Homo sapiens: one gene and its partner. The protein of the gene in region 1 interacts with the protein of each later gene in a biochemical or structural test. Each region holds a gene or a part of one and is shown on either strand. Other genes may lie near its edges.

Region 1 (8,485 bases):
AGAAGTCCATTGTTTTTAGCCTAGCACATTCTAACCCTGTGCCCAGAACAACCACTGGCAAATACGGGGGTGCTAAGTACATCGACATGGAATGGCCCTAGTGATAGGAAATAAAGTTGATGACAGGCTGGATTTGAGGTTTAAGGAGAGGAGGACCAGAGTTCGATGCTCAGGTGTGTGGTATGATTGTGTGGACTGCACCGTCCACACCAGATGATTTGCAAAGAGAAGGACTTGGGAGAGGAAAGGGGCTAAGGAGGTGGAAGGAGAGGATGAGTCTAACGTAGGCTTTGTTGAGGTGCAGATTTGGTGAGATGGAGGATATTTTTCTAGCAGGCAGTTGGAGGGACTGGTTATGAGATGGCGCATTTTCCCAGCCCTGAGGTCCAGTTGAGGATGCTGTTAAAGAACAGCACTGGCTGGGCGTGGTGGCTCACACTGTAATCCCACCACTTTGGGAGGCTGAGGCAGGTGGATCGCCTGAGGTCAGGAGTTCGAGGCCAGCCTGGCCAACATGGTGAAACCCGTCTCTACTAAAAATACGAAAATTAGTCAGGCACGGTGGTGGGCGCCTGTAGTTCCAGCTACTTGGGAGGCTGAGCCAGGAGAATCACTGGAACCCGGGAGGCAGAGGTTGTAGTGAGCCGAGATCACGCCACTGCACTCCAGCCTGGGCAACAGAGTGAGACTCCATCTCAGAAAAAAAAGAAAAAAAAAAGAACAAAAGAGCAGTAATTAGCAGTCTTGTGGATCTCTTATGTGCCAGGTGCTTGGCAAGCCTTTGGTAGTTGTGACTCATTTAGGCTTCCTCTATGTCTTTAAGGTAGCTACTAGTTTCCCAGTTTTAGAGGTGAAGAGACTAGGCCTTAGGGAGGCTGAGCATTGTTAGCTAAAAATGTTTGCCTGCTGTATTTGCCCAAGGCACCAGTGAACTTCTTTCTTGTCAGATCTTGACATCACCTAAAATGAATGTAAACACCTCAGAATTCCAGGACCCATTGCAGTCAGAACATCCAGGAAAGGGTTTGGGAATCTGTATTGTTAAAATGCACATTAGGAAATCCTTAGGATCAGGCAGATCTGGGACTTTCTGGTCTCAGTGCTTCCTGTTTAGTTCCAAATTCACATTCTTAGCCCCTGCACTGCGTGCTCCATGGCAGTAGCCAGCGTTTTGATCAGGGCTTGTGGAATAGTTTTATTAACTGTGATCTTTGTGGTTTACGGAAAGATCCCATTTTGTTAGTGAGCAGGAGATTTCGAAAATAGTCTGAAGTCCTGCCATGATAGTTGTTTTATTAGTGGTTTGGGGAGAGGAGGAAACTAACATTTATTAAGTGTTTACTAGTAGTTCTCTCAGTAATGAACTTCATTATAATTTTATGGTGAGAAAACGGGGCCTCTGCTCAATTTCTCCAAGGCCATAGATCTGGTAAAAAGGCTCAGCCAAGGGTTAGACCCAGAATTGCCTGATAGTAAAAATAGCTCAGACTTATTTAGTGCTTACTGTGTTACCAGGCTATTACATGTATTAACCCATCTAATCTTCGTAGCAGTTCTGCAGAGGACGTTTCTATCATTAGTCCCACTTTACAGATCAGAAACCAAAGCCTGTGGGGACTAAGTTGCTCAATCTCACACGCCTAGTAAGTGGGAGAGCCAGGCCCTGAATCCCGGCATTCTAGCTCCAGAATCCACACCTCTTACCACTGCCCAGTCCTGATGCTGTGACTCGTGTTCTTCTTCTCACCTTTGTAGTAAACAGCATGAAGAATGACTTTTAAAAATGATAGCAAATTTATATTTGTTAATGTAAATTAGTACAAGACCCAGGACGTTGCTTCTGATGTGCTTGGGGTTGACTAGTGTCATTTACTTCCTTTTCAGTTCGTTCCCACATGCAGGGCAGCACAAGGAGAATGGGCGTCATGACTGATGTCCACCGGCGCTTCCTCCAGTTGCTGATGACCCATGGCGTGCTAGAGGAATGGGACGTGAAGCGCTTGCAGACGCACTGCTACAAGGTCCATGACCGTGAGTACCGTTTCCCTGTTCCCAGGGCGCTCTGGTGCTGTGTTGATCAGGGACCAGTGACATAGGTACAATACCATGTAACTTGTTAACCGGTACTCCTGAGCTGAGCATTCAAGCCTCTTCACAATCTTACACGGGCCCATCTTTCTAATTTCATCTTCCACTTTTATTTTTTTTCCAAGTAAACCTGACATTTAGCCCTGTGGATAAAAACTTAGAGTCTAAAGCTGTATAGTTGTGGTTCACACCAAGCCTCCAGGACCTGCCCCAGCCTCAGTTTCTGTATCTGTAAAGTGAGGATAGTAATTGTACTTAACACATAAGTAAGTGCATGGTTCAGGGAATTGAGAGACATGATATGTACAAGACAGTGGCGCAGAGACAGTGCCTAGTGGGGTATTGATGGACACAGGGCAGCTTGGCTGGGTGCGGTGGCTCACGCTGTTATCCCTGCACTCTGGGAATCAAGGTGGGAGGATAGCTTGAGGCCAGGAGTTTGGGACCAGCCTGGGCAATGTAGCAAGACCCTCTCTATTTTTTTATTTGAAAAAAAGAAAATAAATTATAAAACAAAAAAATGGGGGAGCTTAGCACAACACTTAAGGGCACAGCCTTAGACTGGGCCGGACCTGAAGAGTGTGTCCCTGCCCTGTGTCAGCTGAAGGCATTTGGGGCATCTTACGGGGCCACTGGGAGGGGCAAATAAGAAGCCCTTGGAGACAGGACATGGTGCTAAGTTCTAAGTAACTGGAGATGGTGGAAGAAACAGTAGGATCAGTGTTGATAGATCAGTCGAATTAGCATTGGCAGATATTGTTGAGTTGTGTGCCAATATGGGTAGATCTTACTGATTAGATTTTATGCAGTGACAAAGGTGATGGATGAGTAATTGTATGATGTGATTATGTTGTTTTTTTGTGAAGTACAAAATCGTTTTCATTGGTTATGAATGCATTTGCATGTAAAGGTATAAAAGTGGACCAGAAGAAGACGCAGGACACTTGTGAGGTGCTTGTGAGGAGAAGCAGAGTGGGAGTGGGCTGTCAGCAGAGATCACAGGACCCTTCACTTTTATCCTGTTATGTTCTTTTATTAAAAAGAAAAGTCTTGAAGCCAACGTGACATTATTAGCCTAACAACATGACATTAATTAGTGTAGTCTACTGGTTGTCACCTCTGATGAATGGGAATGCAGGCGTTTGGTTTTTATTCTGCCTTATTCTGCCTTTCTCTCTGTATTTTTAATTTTCAAAAGAAAAAGATAAAAAATGACATAGAAGTGAGCCAAGCCAAGAGGTATGAGAAAGGGCGTGTACAGGTACACAGGGAGCAAGTACACAGGTGAAGGGACACAAAAAAAAGGCAAAAAGATGCTTTCATTCTTAGTCCACAGGCATCCTGTAGCTCCTTGCAGTGAGCTGTGAAAGGGCGAAGGGACACCAGAAAGGGTGTCCCTCCTGTCCCCAAAGGCAAACACTTCATGAGTGCATTACATCTTCTTCCCAGCCACTTTTATGCCTTTGCATGCAAATGCATTCAAAAGTGATGAAGATCATTTTATACTTTTCAAAATGTGAAGGGACACGAGAAAAGGTAGGTGTCACATTTGGAGCACTGCAGTTTCTGCAGCATGTTAGAGTTCAAAGCCTGATCCCAGAGAGGTGAGCAGTGAATGGGAATAAGAAGAGGGAGACAGAACAGAAACGAATATTCTTTCAAGGTGTGCAAAGGAAGGAGGAATAAAAGAAGGTGGCGTGTTAGACGGAGAAGAAGCAGTTTGAAGTGTCTGGAGAGTAGCATCTGCGTTCTCCAGAGCACTGGTCCATGGAGGTGTTCCATGGGGAATTCTGGGAGCTCAGTAATGCCAGGAACAAGTTAGCCTGTTGAACTGTGTTTAATTCTGTGTATCCAAACCTAATTGACCTACTGATAACCTACCCTGGGAATCCCTAGACAAGAATATATGATGTGTGGGAAGAGAATACATTCTTTTCGTGTGTAGGTTTGCAGATCATGAAGAACCCTATACACCATAGTAATGGCTTTTTACTTCTGCGGACAGTGTGGCCCTCTTGAAGTATTCAAAGCAGAGAGTGAGAGAGACAGTTTTAGGTTTGAGAACCATCTCCGTGGTGAAGGTAGATGCGCCGCAGTTGTACCAGCAGAGAAGGATCTTTGGTGAGAGACTTTTGTATTGAAAGGGGATGTTATACCTGTTAAGCTAGTTTCTCTTGCTCTTTAAAAAGCATAGTAGCGGCTGGGTGTGGTGGCTCACACCTGTAATCCCAGCACTTTGGGAGGCTGAGGAGGGTGGGTCACCTGAGGTCAGGAGTTCAAGACCAGCCTGGTCAACATGGTGAAACTCCATCTCTACTAAAAATACAAAAATTAGCCGGGTGTGGTGGTGCATGCCTGTAGTCCCAGCTACTTGGGAGGCTGAGGCAGGATAATTGCTTGAACCTGGGAGGCAGATGCTGCAGTGAGCTGAGATCCTGCCCCTGCACTCCAGCTTGGGCGACAGAGCGAGACCATGTATCAAAAAAAAAAAAAAAAAAAAAAAAAAAAAAAGCATGGTTGGACTTTAAACCTACCCCTCAATATCCTCCAGAAATGTGCATAAGAACGCTTGTCTTCAGCCTGAGCAACATGGTGAAACCCAGTCTCTACCAAAAGTACAAAAAATTAGCCAGGTGTGCTGGCACACACCTATGGTCCTAGCTACCCAGGAAGCTGAGGCAGGAGGATCGCTTGAGCAGGGGAGGTGGGGGTTGCAGTGAGCTGAGGTTGCACCACTGCACTCCAGCCTGGGCAACACAGTGAACCCCCATCTCAAAAAAATAAAAGAATGCTTGTGTTAATCCTGAATCTCTTATTTACACGACAATTTAGTCCTTTTCTCTTTTTTTCTCCTGTGAGTCTTGACTGTAAGCTTTCATGTTGGTGGGGAAGTTTCACAGCTCACTGCAAGGAGCCACATGATGCCTTGGTACTAAGACTGAAAGTGTTTTTGCCTTTATTTGACCTTTAAAATTGTTATGATCTAATTTAGGAAAGTCCTGTAGAATGTGTCTAGGAATTGATTTATTCTTCACACTGTGTACCATTTCTTTGCACCTAGATATGGTTATGGCCAGGGTGAACAGGGTAGAACAATCTATTTTGTCCTATCTTCATTTAAGAAAAATGCCAAAAAACTTGTTACTGCATGTTCTTGTTATTAGGGAGATTTTAAACAGGAAATGACAGAAATTATCTAAACTTAAGTGAATACTCGCAAGACCCAATATTATTAATTTCCTATCTTTTGAAGAGATGGCCAGGAAAATCCCCTTGTACCAAATAGAAAAATATTTAGCTTCTAGGAAAATTATGAAACAAAGGAGTGATTGAAATTGCAAGTTATTCTAATTGCCATTTCCCAGGGTGTTTGTCCAGTTTATCAAATCACTTCTTATTCTAGGCTTTGGTTTGGGTTCTCTTCTTACTGTCGTTAAGGGGAAACAAAGTCCCCAATTCTCCTGGCTAGTGAAGAGTTTAGATTTTGTTCTCAAGTTCAGTGCAGGCCTTGGGTCGAGCCTTTCGGAATGGCGCTAGGGACCTGTGTTCTTAGAGGACCTTAGATTTTTGAGCCAGGACTTGCATCCACACATACGTTTATTCAACCAGCAAAGCTTCCCTAGAATCTCAAGTGAGCCAGGCCTCTGTGCTAGGGACTGGTGACTCAGAGATTGAATTTTTATTTTACCATGGCTCTCATGAGTCATACAGACAAGGGGTCAGATGATTCCAATATAGGCCTCCTTGATAGAAGTCGGCACAGGAGGCCTCGGGGGTGGTGGAGAAGGCTTGGGTTTGAGGTTTTCCACTTTTGGCCAGTATGGAGCAACAGGGCTCAGTACACCTTCTTGCCTGAAACAATTCAAAAATGGACAAAGTATAAAATACTGGACATTCGTCAGTCAAGGCCAGTGATCTTTCGAGAGATGGGCAATGAGGGTTTCTTTTTCTCTTGACACTTGATGTGGTATCTTTTCTAACACTACTCCAGTTCTCTAGATAACAACTGGGCATTCCATAATTCAGTTTAATTCTGACACTATCTGCCTGGAGTTAGCATCAAATCCTACAAGTTAAAGGGCTCAGTGTCACAAGACTGACCCAACTTAAGACACCAGTTGTAAGTCCTGGGCTACCTGTGTTTCTGACCAATGGCTGTACATCAGTGGTTCCCATAACTCCCTCTTTGGATTTGATAATTTTCTAGAATGATTCATAGAACTCAGGAAAACACTTTACTTACATTTTGACTTACGTGGTTTTTTTATAAAGGCTACAACTCAGGAACAGCCACATAGGAGAGATCACAGGGCCAGCTGTGGGAAGTGGGGGTGGCATGGAGTTTCCGTGCCCTCTCTACTTGCACCACCGTCTCAACGCCTCTGTGTGTTTAATAACCCGAAGCTCTTCAAATCCTGTCGTTCAAGGGTTTCTTTTTTATTTTTATTTTTATTTTTTTTGAGACAGTTTTGCTCTTGTCGCCCAGGCTGGAGTGCAATGGCAAGATCTCGGCTCACTGCAACCTCTGCCTCCCAGGTTCAAGCGATTCTCCTGCCTCAGCCGCCTGAGTAGCTGGGACTACAGGCGTGAGCCACCACACCCGGCTAATTTTTGTGGTTTTAGTAGAGATGGGGTTTCACCATGTTGGCCAGGCTGGTCTCGAACTTCTGACCTCAGGTGATCCGCCTGCCTCCGCCTCCCCAAGTGCTGGGATTACAGGCATGAGCCACCGCGCCCGGCTAAGTTTTAAATTATTTGTAGAGACGGGGGTCTTCTTCTGTGGCCTAGGCTGGTCTCGAACACCTAGGCTCAAGTGATCATCCTGCGTCAGCCTTCCAAAATGTTGGGATTCAGGCGTGAGCCACTGCACCCAGCCCAGTTTCAGGTTTTATAGGGCCTGTTGATTATTGAATTTGGCACACTCTAAGAAAAATAATCCCACAAAATTGTGAATCCACCATTAGAAATGATTTGAAATATTTATTTAGCCACCGTGCCTGGCCATTCCTGGGTTTCTATGGAGGTTTCTTTACACAGGCATGATTGATCAGTCACTGGCCGTTGACGAGTGCTTCCATCTCCAGTCCCTCTCTTCTCCTCAGATATTGGGGAGTGGCTGAAAGTTCCATGTTTTTTATTGAGGCTTGGTCATTCTGGTGACCAGCCCCCATCCTAGGGGCCTGCCAAGAGTTGCCTCATTAGAGCAAAAGATGCTTCTATCACCTATATGACTCAGGGAATTCTAAGAGTTTTAGAAGTTCTGTACCAGGAACCTGGGGGAAAGACCAAGTAACTTTCTTCTGCCACAAGCGATAGTGGGAGTGAGCAGTACAGCTGCCCCAGCTCAGTGCCTTTAGAAAGTTTCTAGGCCATGGCACAGGGGAAACCCAGGCAGAGCTAGGCAGCCTCCCTGCGTTGAGGAGATGGAGATGAGAGTTCAGGGAGACTAAGGCAGGTAGAGGTTGCAGGACGGAGTACTTACAATGGAGTATAAGGTGGACCAGAGGTGCACAGAGAGAAAACTTGAGATGTCCAAAGTGCCCCTCCACTCAAGGATCCCGCTGAGAACTGATGAGCAAGAAAACTTCTTAAGGCCAGGGAGAGAACTAGTTGAAGGATTAGAGAAAACAATGCCAGCTATTCACAGAACTGGGAATAGTGCCCGGCCCAAACATTTGAGGAAGAACTCACACCATTTCTACCCAAACTCTTCTGTAAAATTGAAGAGAATATGTTACAACTAATTCTATGAGACCTGCATGATTCTGATACCATAACCAGACAAAGACATTGCGAGGAAAGAAAACCCCAAACAAGACTCCTCATGAGCGTAGACGTTAACGTGCTAAACCCAACTGTGGCAAATCTAATCTAACAGTGTTTACAAAGGATGGTACGACATAACCAAGTAGGGTTTATCCTGATTTTGCAGGGTTGATTTAGTATTAATATTTGAAAATCAGTGTAATTCACCATATTAAGCTAAAAAAGAAAAATCTTGTGTTTATCTCAATAGGTACAGAAAAAGTATTTGACAAAATCTCATGTTTGCCCTGGTGTGATGTAGCAGAAAGTTTTTTATAGGAAGCTAAGGGATCCTAAGTAGCAGGGGATAAATAGGATAAATAGACTTAGAACACAAGTGAGGAGTCTGAACTCTACAGAGTTTTATATATATATATATATTTATATATATATATATATATATATATATATATTTTAAATAATTAAAATTAAGGCTGGGCGCGGTAGCTCACGCCTGTAATCCCAGCACTTTGGGAGGCTGAGGTGGGCAGATCACCTGAGGTCGGGAGTTCGAGACTAGCCTGACCAACATGGAGAAACCCCGTCTCTACTAAAAATACAAAATTAGCTGGGCACGGTGGTGCATGCCTGT
Region 2 (8,394 bases), on another chromosome or scaffold:
TTCTTTTTACAACAGCTTATTTCCCCTAACTAGATCAGTGGTTCCCAATGTCCCAAAAAGCTTCTTGTATTACCCCCATGGTCCCACAGCTTGAAAGATTTTGGTTATTAAATCAAACACATTTATGAAATAATAGCCTGCTTTTCTCAGTTCTTGATCCTAGTAAGCTTTCTGAACATTGAGAGCGCTGCCAGCCTTTCCTCTCATACCTAACTCTAGGGACTTGGAGTTGGGAGCCACCCACCAAGATCATAAACGCCTTGAATCTGCAGCCCTGTCTCCACACTTCCCATAGCACCTTACTCAGCGCCTTGTGCTTAAAACACACCTAGTAACTGCTTGTGGCATAAACAAGAAGTTTCACACACATGACAGAGGGAGAAGCCCTCTCCAAATGAGCTGGTTGGTGTGCAGAAAGGGGTCATTGTTAAAGGAGGCAGAGCTGGAGGCGAGCCCTTCTCCCTCCATCCACCCGGAGCAGCACCCCCAATTACACCAGCTGGCCTCCAACTTCTGTGTGTGAGCCGATTAAAAAGCACCCTCTCTTCAGTGTCTGGAAACTCCTGCAAGGAAAGTTTGCTGCCCAAAGTTGGCTTTTGACTAGAGTCTTAATAAGAGGCCTCAGCAGGCTGTGGTTAGAGAGACAATGTCACTTAGAGGAGCAGCTTGAAGCGGCAGTTAGGAGAAGAATTATTTTAATGAATACATTTCCTTTCAATTGTATGGGAATATCAAGATCCCATTAGAATGGGGAAGCAATTAGAACTAATAAAGATGAATGCACAGTGCTCTGTGCGTGCGGAATAACAAGCAGCCCACAAAGGGGCTCCAGAGAGGCCGCTGTAATCCAAGCAAACTGGCGGCCAGCAGAGGGGAAACGGCTCTGTTCAGCCGCTCAAAGCCCCTGCGTCCTGCACATTCTGATCACGGCCTGCGAATGGCGTGAGGTGGGCCTTCGAGGTGGGGGTTGGGCCCCCCGCCCTTGCCCAGCCTCTTGGGGATTGAGATGGGCTGTTGGCAGCCCCTTGGCAACAGCCATTCAGACCAGGGCCCTGGCTCCTGGCCAGGCTCTCGCCCGCCCCTTGCACTGGGCCTCATTGTGTCCAGGTGGCAAATGCCTTCTCGCCAACTCTCCTTCGAGGTTTAGAGAGGGGGTGGGACAGTGGAAGAGGGAGAAGGGGATGAATGAGTAGGGGGCCCTCTGCCCCCTGCCATTCCCCCTCCCCCGCTGGCCAGGGTCTGCTCCTCCTCTGGGTTTGGTGTTATATTACAGACACTGGTGAGTCACTGGCAGCCAAACACAGAAGTACTGTTGCTTACACAATTACTCTTCAAAAAGTAACAAACAATTTTCATTACCCAAGTCAGATCGAATCATTCGCCTGGCCATCCTGCCTCAATCCCAGCCCCATAGACGGGACCCAAAGCCTCACACTCTGCCCATTCTGCTCTGACAAAACCAGCTTCAATTTGTCCCGGCCTAGGGATAGGGACAGAGCTCTTCCTCTGATCCCTGTTTGGAGCCAGATCAGCTGCACGGCTGTCAAGACTGTCAGGAGAAATAGGGAAGACACAAGCACCCACGCAGCCTGGAGACCATCAGATCTGGGGTGACATGTTACTGAGCACCTGTGTGAAGAAGGCATTCAAGAGTTTGGAGGACTCTATTGCCAAGTTTAGAAGGAATCCAACAAGATAACCCTGGCTCTGCACCAAAGTATTCACTGGCCTCAAATGGAGTGTCAGTACTTGACATTTCTTTATTTAATCTTTTTTGGCCAGACAGTTTTTTCAATGAGGAATGTGTAAGCTATTCCGAAATGTCTGTCTAAGAGGCCAGTCACCCTCATTACTGGGATTTTTCCACCATATCTCTTTTAGAAAAGGGTCTGTAACATTTTATATTTATTTCTTAATGGTGGAGCACTTTAAACGCATATTTACATGTATAATCTTGATTGAACTTCAAAATAACTCTGTAAGGATGGGCAAAGCAAGGGTTGTTGGGGCCTAAAGATGAGGAAAAGGTGGCTCAGAGAGGTTCAGCACCCTGTGCAAGGTCACAGAATGGGCGAGTACTGACCTGGTTCAGCACTTTGTCCCAGGAAACCTCCTCCGCGTCTCCACAGAGTGCTGGGCATTTCAGGACAGCTCAGCTGCAATTCTGCTTTTCCAGTGGAACATCCTTCTCTCTTCCACGTATGAAACTTTACGAAGCACTGTGGGCTTTTGAAGACTCTAGTCTAGGCTAAGAAGGATCCTCTCTCAAGAAGATTCCAACCCAATAGTCATTAAAGCATATGTTTCGTCATCTCCCAAACCAAAGGCATATATCTTTTGTCCCTTTTAAAAGTTTAGGTAAGGAATGTGTTAAAAGTCTGCCTGTTGCCGGAAATGGTGGCTCATGCCGGTAATCCCAGCACTTTGGGAGGCCGAGGCAGGCGGATCACGAGGTCAGGAGATCGTGACCATCCTGGCTAACACGGTGAAACCCCATCTCTACTAAAAAAAAAAATACAAAAAATTAGCTGCATGGTGGCAGACGCCTGTAGTCCCAGCTACTCGGGAGGCTGAGGCAGGAGAATGGCGTGAACGTGGGAGACGGAGCTTGCAGTGAGCCGAGATGCGCCACTGCACTCCAGCCTGGGCGACAGAGTGAGACTTCGTCTCAAAAAAAAAAAAAAAAAAAAAAAAAAATTCTGTGTGTCCGGTTACATGGTGGACATAACAAAAAAAAAAATGGGAAAAATTATTGTTTGCATTCCTTCCACTGTAACATGGTAACATCTAGCGATCGGCAAGTGGTAATGCAGAGTCCATTCACCTTTCTTACTCCTCGCCTCCTCCCATACCTAAAGGGCTGTTCATTTTTTAAAATCCTTTTTTATTTTTATAAATTTTGAGGTATGATTCATACACTATGAAATGCATACCTGGCTGGGCATGGTGGCTTACACCTGTAATCCCAGCATTTTGGGAGGCTGAGGCAGGCAGATCACTTGAGGTCAGGAGTTTGAGACCAGCTTGGCCAACATGGTGAAACCCCGTCTCTGTTAAAAATACAAAAATCAGCCAGGTGTGGTGGCAGGTGCCTGTAATCCCAGCTACTTGGAAGGCTGAGGCAAGAGAAGCACTTGAACCTGGAGGCAAGGGTTGCAGTGGCAGGGGTTGCAGTGAGCTGAGATTGTGCCATTGCACCACTCCAGCCTGGGTAACAGAGTGAGACCCTGTCGCAAAGAAAAGAAAAGAAAAGAAAAGAAATGCATAGCTATTAAGCGTACAGTTTCACAAGTTTTGACAAATGTATACCTACATCCAAATCAAGACACAGAACGTTGCCATCACCACTGAAAGTTCCTGGATACCCCTTTCCAGTCAACACCACCCCAGGCCTCCACTGTCCTAATTTCTATCACCATAGATTAGCTTATCCTGCCTCGAACATCAGATAAATGGAATCATATTATACGTATAATCTTTTGTATCTTTCATCTGTCACTCAACATATCTGCCAGACTCATTCACATTGTGTCAGTAGTTTGTTCCTTCTTATGAGTAGTATCGTCATTTATTCAGTTCTTAAAATCCAGCCCTATTACCACAGATTTGTCCCTCAAAATTCTTTTCATTTAATATATCTTCTGCATGCTCCTTTCCGTGCATGTATCTCCTGCATATCTCCCTGGCAATCCTTGTAGTGAGGAAAATATGTAAGTGGACTATTTTATCTCTAGCACTGTCCTTTTAGGTATGGGTGGCTCTCTCTACCTTCAGGAAAAACAGATAACCAGGCAGTCTTGCTTCAGAGTTTACAGATCTGGGTTTTCATTTCTTGTCTAGCACTTAACAGATGGGTGGTTCAGGGCAGGTGATTTAACCTCTCTGTGACTGTTTTCCCATTTGTAAATGTGGATAATAATACCTTCTTAATAGGGATTTGTGAGGACAAAATTATATTGTACATAGAATGTTTGGCACAATGAAAACTAATAATAGCCTCAAGCTAGGCTATAATAAACATCCTCTCCTGCTTCATTCACATACTTCCAGGTTTGTAAGTCATATGATACAAGTGGGTATAAATTTTCAAAAGTTTTTAAAAGGAAGATTTCATATTTAGATTTAGAAAAGTCTATCAGATATTTACTTAAAATAAGTAACTGTTATTTCCTAGGGAAAAAAGTAAAGCCTTCTGTCATTTATTCATTGGCAATTATATATCGAGTATTGACTAAGAGAAGCTCTTCAAAAGAGTTAAAAACATAGCCCTAGCTTTTAGGATGTTTGGTTTGGGGAGGGTAATAAGATAAGCACAACAAATTATAATACAAAATATAGTAAATGATAATAATAATAATTAACATCTATGAATGTAGTGGTTAAGAGCACAGTCTCTGGAGTCATACTATATGGGTTCACATCCCAGCTGTGTGATGTTGGGCAAGTTACTTAACCTCCTTGTGTGTAACCTCACCTGGAAAATGGGGCTAATACCACTTACCTAGCAGGGCTACAGTATCAGAAAAAAGTGGCCCAGGGTGTTTGAGCATCCTGTACAAGGTCACAGAATGGGTGAGTACTGACCCGGTTCAGTGCTATGTCCCAGGACACCTCCTCCGCATCTCCACAGAGTGCTAGGCATTCCAGGACAGTTCATCTTGCAATTCTAATATTGTATATTGCATATAAAAATATGCATTAATTAACAGCTAACATGTATTGAATATCAATATGTGCCAAGCACTGTGTTAAATGCTTATGTGCATTACTTCACATAATCTCCACAATGCTGTTACTACTATTATACTCATTTTACTGATAAGGTAACAGAAGGGCAGAAGTTTAGGTAACTTGCCCAAGATTACATAGCTAGTAAGTAGCAAACTGTGTCACAGAAAAGATACAATCATCTATAAAATGGGGATGATGGTATTAGTACCTACATTAGTGAGAATCTGATGAATTAATATTTGAAAAGTGATTAGAACGGAGCCTGGCACCTAATAAAGCCTATATATGTGGATGTTAACAATTGCTAAGGTGATTCAGAGATGACAGTAAATAACTTCTATGCGTGGTGACTAAGGAAGGCTTGGGAAGGTGATGTTTAAACTGGGCCCTGAATAGTGGACAGGATTTGGAGAAATGGAGGTGATAGAGAGGGCATTTCTGACAGGGAAGGAAGGGAGGGAGGGAGGGAAGAAGGAAGGAAGGAAGGAAGGAAAGAAGGAAGGAAGGAAGGAAGGAAAGAAGGAAGGAAGGAAGGCAGGAAGGGAAGGAGGGAAGGGAGGGAGGAAGGAAGGAAGGAGGGAAGGAAAGAAGGAAGGAAGGAGCAAGAAGCAGAAGAAAGCTCAGAGTGTGTAAAAAGAGAAAAAGAAAAGAAATACATGGGAGTAGTCAAATTTGACTTGCGCAAAAAAAAAAAAAAAAAAGAACAAACTTCCCCTTTCTTCCAACCAGTCCCTATTCCTGCTGTACTTCTCAGTATTTTCCTCTTATCCCCATGGAATCTGCTGTCCTTACTCCCTCATCATAATGATCCATTGAATATTTATTGAGTTCCTCTCCGTGTCAGGCACTGCTCTAGGCACCGAGGATACAACCCAGTAAATAGGCCGGGTCCCAGTTCCTAGTTTGCACTATAATAATCCTCCAAACTGGATTCTAGCTTTTAGCCGGCCGAACTCCAATCTATCTTCCACAATACCGCCAGAACCGAAGACACAGATCTGGTCTGGACACTCACTTGCTTAAATCCCGCTGCAGTATTTTCTCTTTACGTCCAGAATAAATTTCAGTCTCCCTAGCATCCTTTACTAATTGGTTCGCACAGTCTTACCTCGCAGCCTTCACCGTGCACTCTGCACAAGAGCCCCGGTAAAGCACTGAAAATCCCAGATACACACACTCACAAATAGGCACTTGCAGAAAGAACGTGGGGGGCACTCCATCCCTATTTCATCTCTTGTACACCGAAACATTCCCCAGTCTGCATGCCTTGGATGGGAGAGTCCTGGTTACATTCCCCCGCCCCCGACTTTTCAAGCCTAAAATCCGTCACAGGGCGCACCCCCGTCCCCACCCTCCAGGGCATTTCCACTTATAGCAGCCTGGGCACACCCCCAACCCAGAAGGGACCGGAAAAGGAGGGGCTGCGCGCGGCACTAGGGTCGCCGTCCTGGCTGAGGTGGCCGGAAGTGGCCCCTCGCGCGGGCGCGGACTGAGGCTGCGCGCCGCAGGTTCCGGCTGCTGGCGGCGTTGCGGCCGCAGGTTTGACTCCCGTGCGGTGCGGCCCAGCAGCCACAAAGCTCCCGCTGCCATTGCTCCTTGTACTCCCGCCGTCACTGCCGCTGTCCAACCCCTCCCCCGGGGCTTGCGCGGCGGCTCCCACACCCCTCGGCCCGTGTACGCGCTCTGCACCTGCCTGCCCGAAAACATGTTGCAGACACCAGAGAGCAGGGGGCTCCCGGTCCCGCAGGCCGAGGGGGAGAAGGATGGCGGCCATGATGGTGAGACCCGGGCCCCGACCGCCTCGCAGGAGCGCCCCAAGGAGGAGCTTGGCGCCGGGAGGGAGGAGGGGGCTGCGGAGCCCGCCCTCACCCGGAAAGGCGCGAGGGCCTTGGCGGCCAAAGCCTTGGCAAGGCGCAGGGCCTACCGCCGGCTGAATCGGACGGTGGCGGAGTTGGTGCAGTTCCTCCTGGTGAAAGACAAGAAGAAGAGTCCCATCACACGCTCGGAGATGGTGAAATACGTTATTGGAGACTTGAAGATTCTGTTCCCGGACATCATCGCAAGGGCCGCAGAGCATCTGCGGTATGTCTTTGGTTTTGAGCTGAAACAGTTTGACCGCAAGCACCACACTTACATCCTGATCAACAAACTAAAACCTCTGGAGGAGGAGGAGGAGGAGGATCTGGGAGGAGATGGCCCCAGATTGGGTCTGTTAATGATGATCCTGGGCCTTATCTATATGAGAGGTAATAGCGCCAGGGAGGCCCAGGTCTGGGAGATGCTGCGTCGGTTGGGGGTGCAACCCTCAAAGTATCATTTCCTCTTTGGGTATCCGAAGAGGCTTATTATGGAAGATTTTGTGCAGCAGCGATATCTCAGTTACAGGCGGGTGCCTCACACCAATCCACCAGAATATGAATTCTCTTGGGGTCCCCGAAGCAACCTGGAAATCAGCAAGATGGAAGTCCTGGGGTTCGTGGCCAAACTGCATAAGAAGGAACCGCAGCACTGGCCAGTGCAGTACCGTGAGGCCCTAGCAGACGAGGCCGACAGGGCCAGAGCCAAGGCCAGAGCTGAAGCCAGTATGAGGGCCAGGGCCAGTGCTAGGGCCGGCATCCACCTCTGGTGAGGGTTGGTGAAAAGTTGGCCAGTGGGTCCCCGTGAGGACGAACTACTGTCCTGAGTCATAAGTAATATGGGTGGGGCGAGGGTCTTATTTCTGTAGAAATCGTGTGACTTTAAGGATTTAGATTTTGTATCTTATGTTTTGTAACATTTAATAATTACTGTTAAAATGCTGTTTGTAAATGAGATTGGTCTACTTTTTCCTGTAGGATTTTATTGTAGAGTTTTGCTGGTTTTGTAAAATGGATGGAAGAACTTTGTATTTATACTGTGATTTTGAACAGATTATGCAACATTGGAAGGAAGGCTGTACTTTGATGGTTTGAAGGAACTCAGCAGTATGATGATCTGGTTCCAGGGGAAAAAAATAGCTGGTTGGTGTCTAGCCCCCCAACACTTTTGTCTGTTGTGTATAAAAGAAGAAAGACTGGCATGTACCTTCATTTGCTTAGCTATTTGAGTATCTAGAGAAAAATTAAAATGCAATGAGTTAGCAGTATACCCTGGCACACTTAATAAATTAAACATTTGTGGAGCATCTTGTTTTCTGTGATGCACTGTGTGGGCACTTGGGGATAGAATACTAAACAAGATAAAGGTCCTACTTTTTTTCAGAATTGAAGAGTAAGTAAATAAACAAGAAATTAGCAGTGCAATGAGTTGAAGTCTACAAAGGGATACTTAACCCAGCTGGGATGATTGAGTGAGGTTTGCTGTAATCCCAGCACTTTGGGAGGCCGAGGCGGACTGATCACCGGAGTCAGGAGTTCAAGACCAGCCTGGCCAACATGGTGAAACCCTGTTTCTACTAAAATTACAAAAATTAACCAGGCGTGGTGGCACACACCTGTAATCCCAGCTACTTGGGAGGCCAAGGCACAAGAATCTCTTGAATCTAGGAGACGGAGGTTGCAGTGAGCCGAGATCATACCACTGCACTCCAGCTTGGGAGACAGAGCAAGACCCCGTCTCAGAAAAAAATAAGAAATAAAAATAATGATTTCAGATCACAGCTACTCCTCAGTAATGTGAGCAGAC

What was found.
Region 2: the proteins of NSMCE1 (region 1) and MAGEF1 form a complex in vitro, tested with the Homo sapiens proteins (2 studies listed by BioGRID).

Annotation. Positions count from the first base shown.
Region 1 is NC_000016.10:27,250,981-27,259,465, reverse strand, and holds part of NSMCE1 (non-structural maintenance of chromosomes element 1 homolog), read left to right. Parts: intron 1-1,884; 5' UTR 1,885-1,895; coding exon 1,896-2,031; intron 2,032-8,485. UniProt on the Homo sapiens protein: RING-type zinc finger-containing E3 ubiquitin ligase that assembles with melanoma antigen protein (MAGE) to catalyze the direct transfer of ubiquitin from E2 ubiquitin-conjugating enzyme to a specific substrate.
Region 2 is NC_000003.12:184,709,864-184,718,257, reverse strand, and holds MAGEF1 (melanoma-associated antigen F1), read left to right. Parts: upstream 1-6,193; 5' UTR 6,194-6,436; coding exon 6,437-7,360; 3' UTR 7,361-7,894; downstream 7,895-8,394. UniProt on the Homo sapiens protein: Enhances ubiquitin ligase activity of RING-type zinc finger-containing E3 ubiquitin ligases. Proposed to act through recruitment and/or stabilization of the E2 ubiquitin-conjugating enzyme at the E3:substrate complex.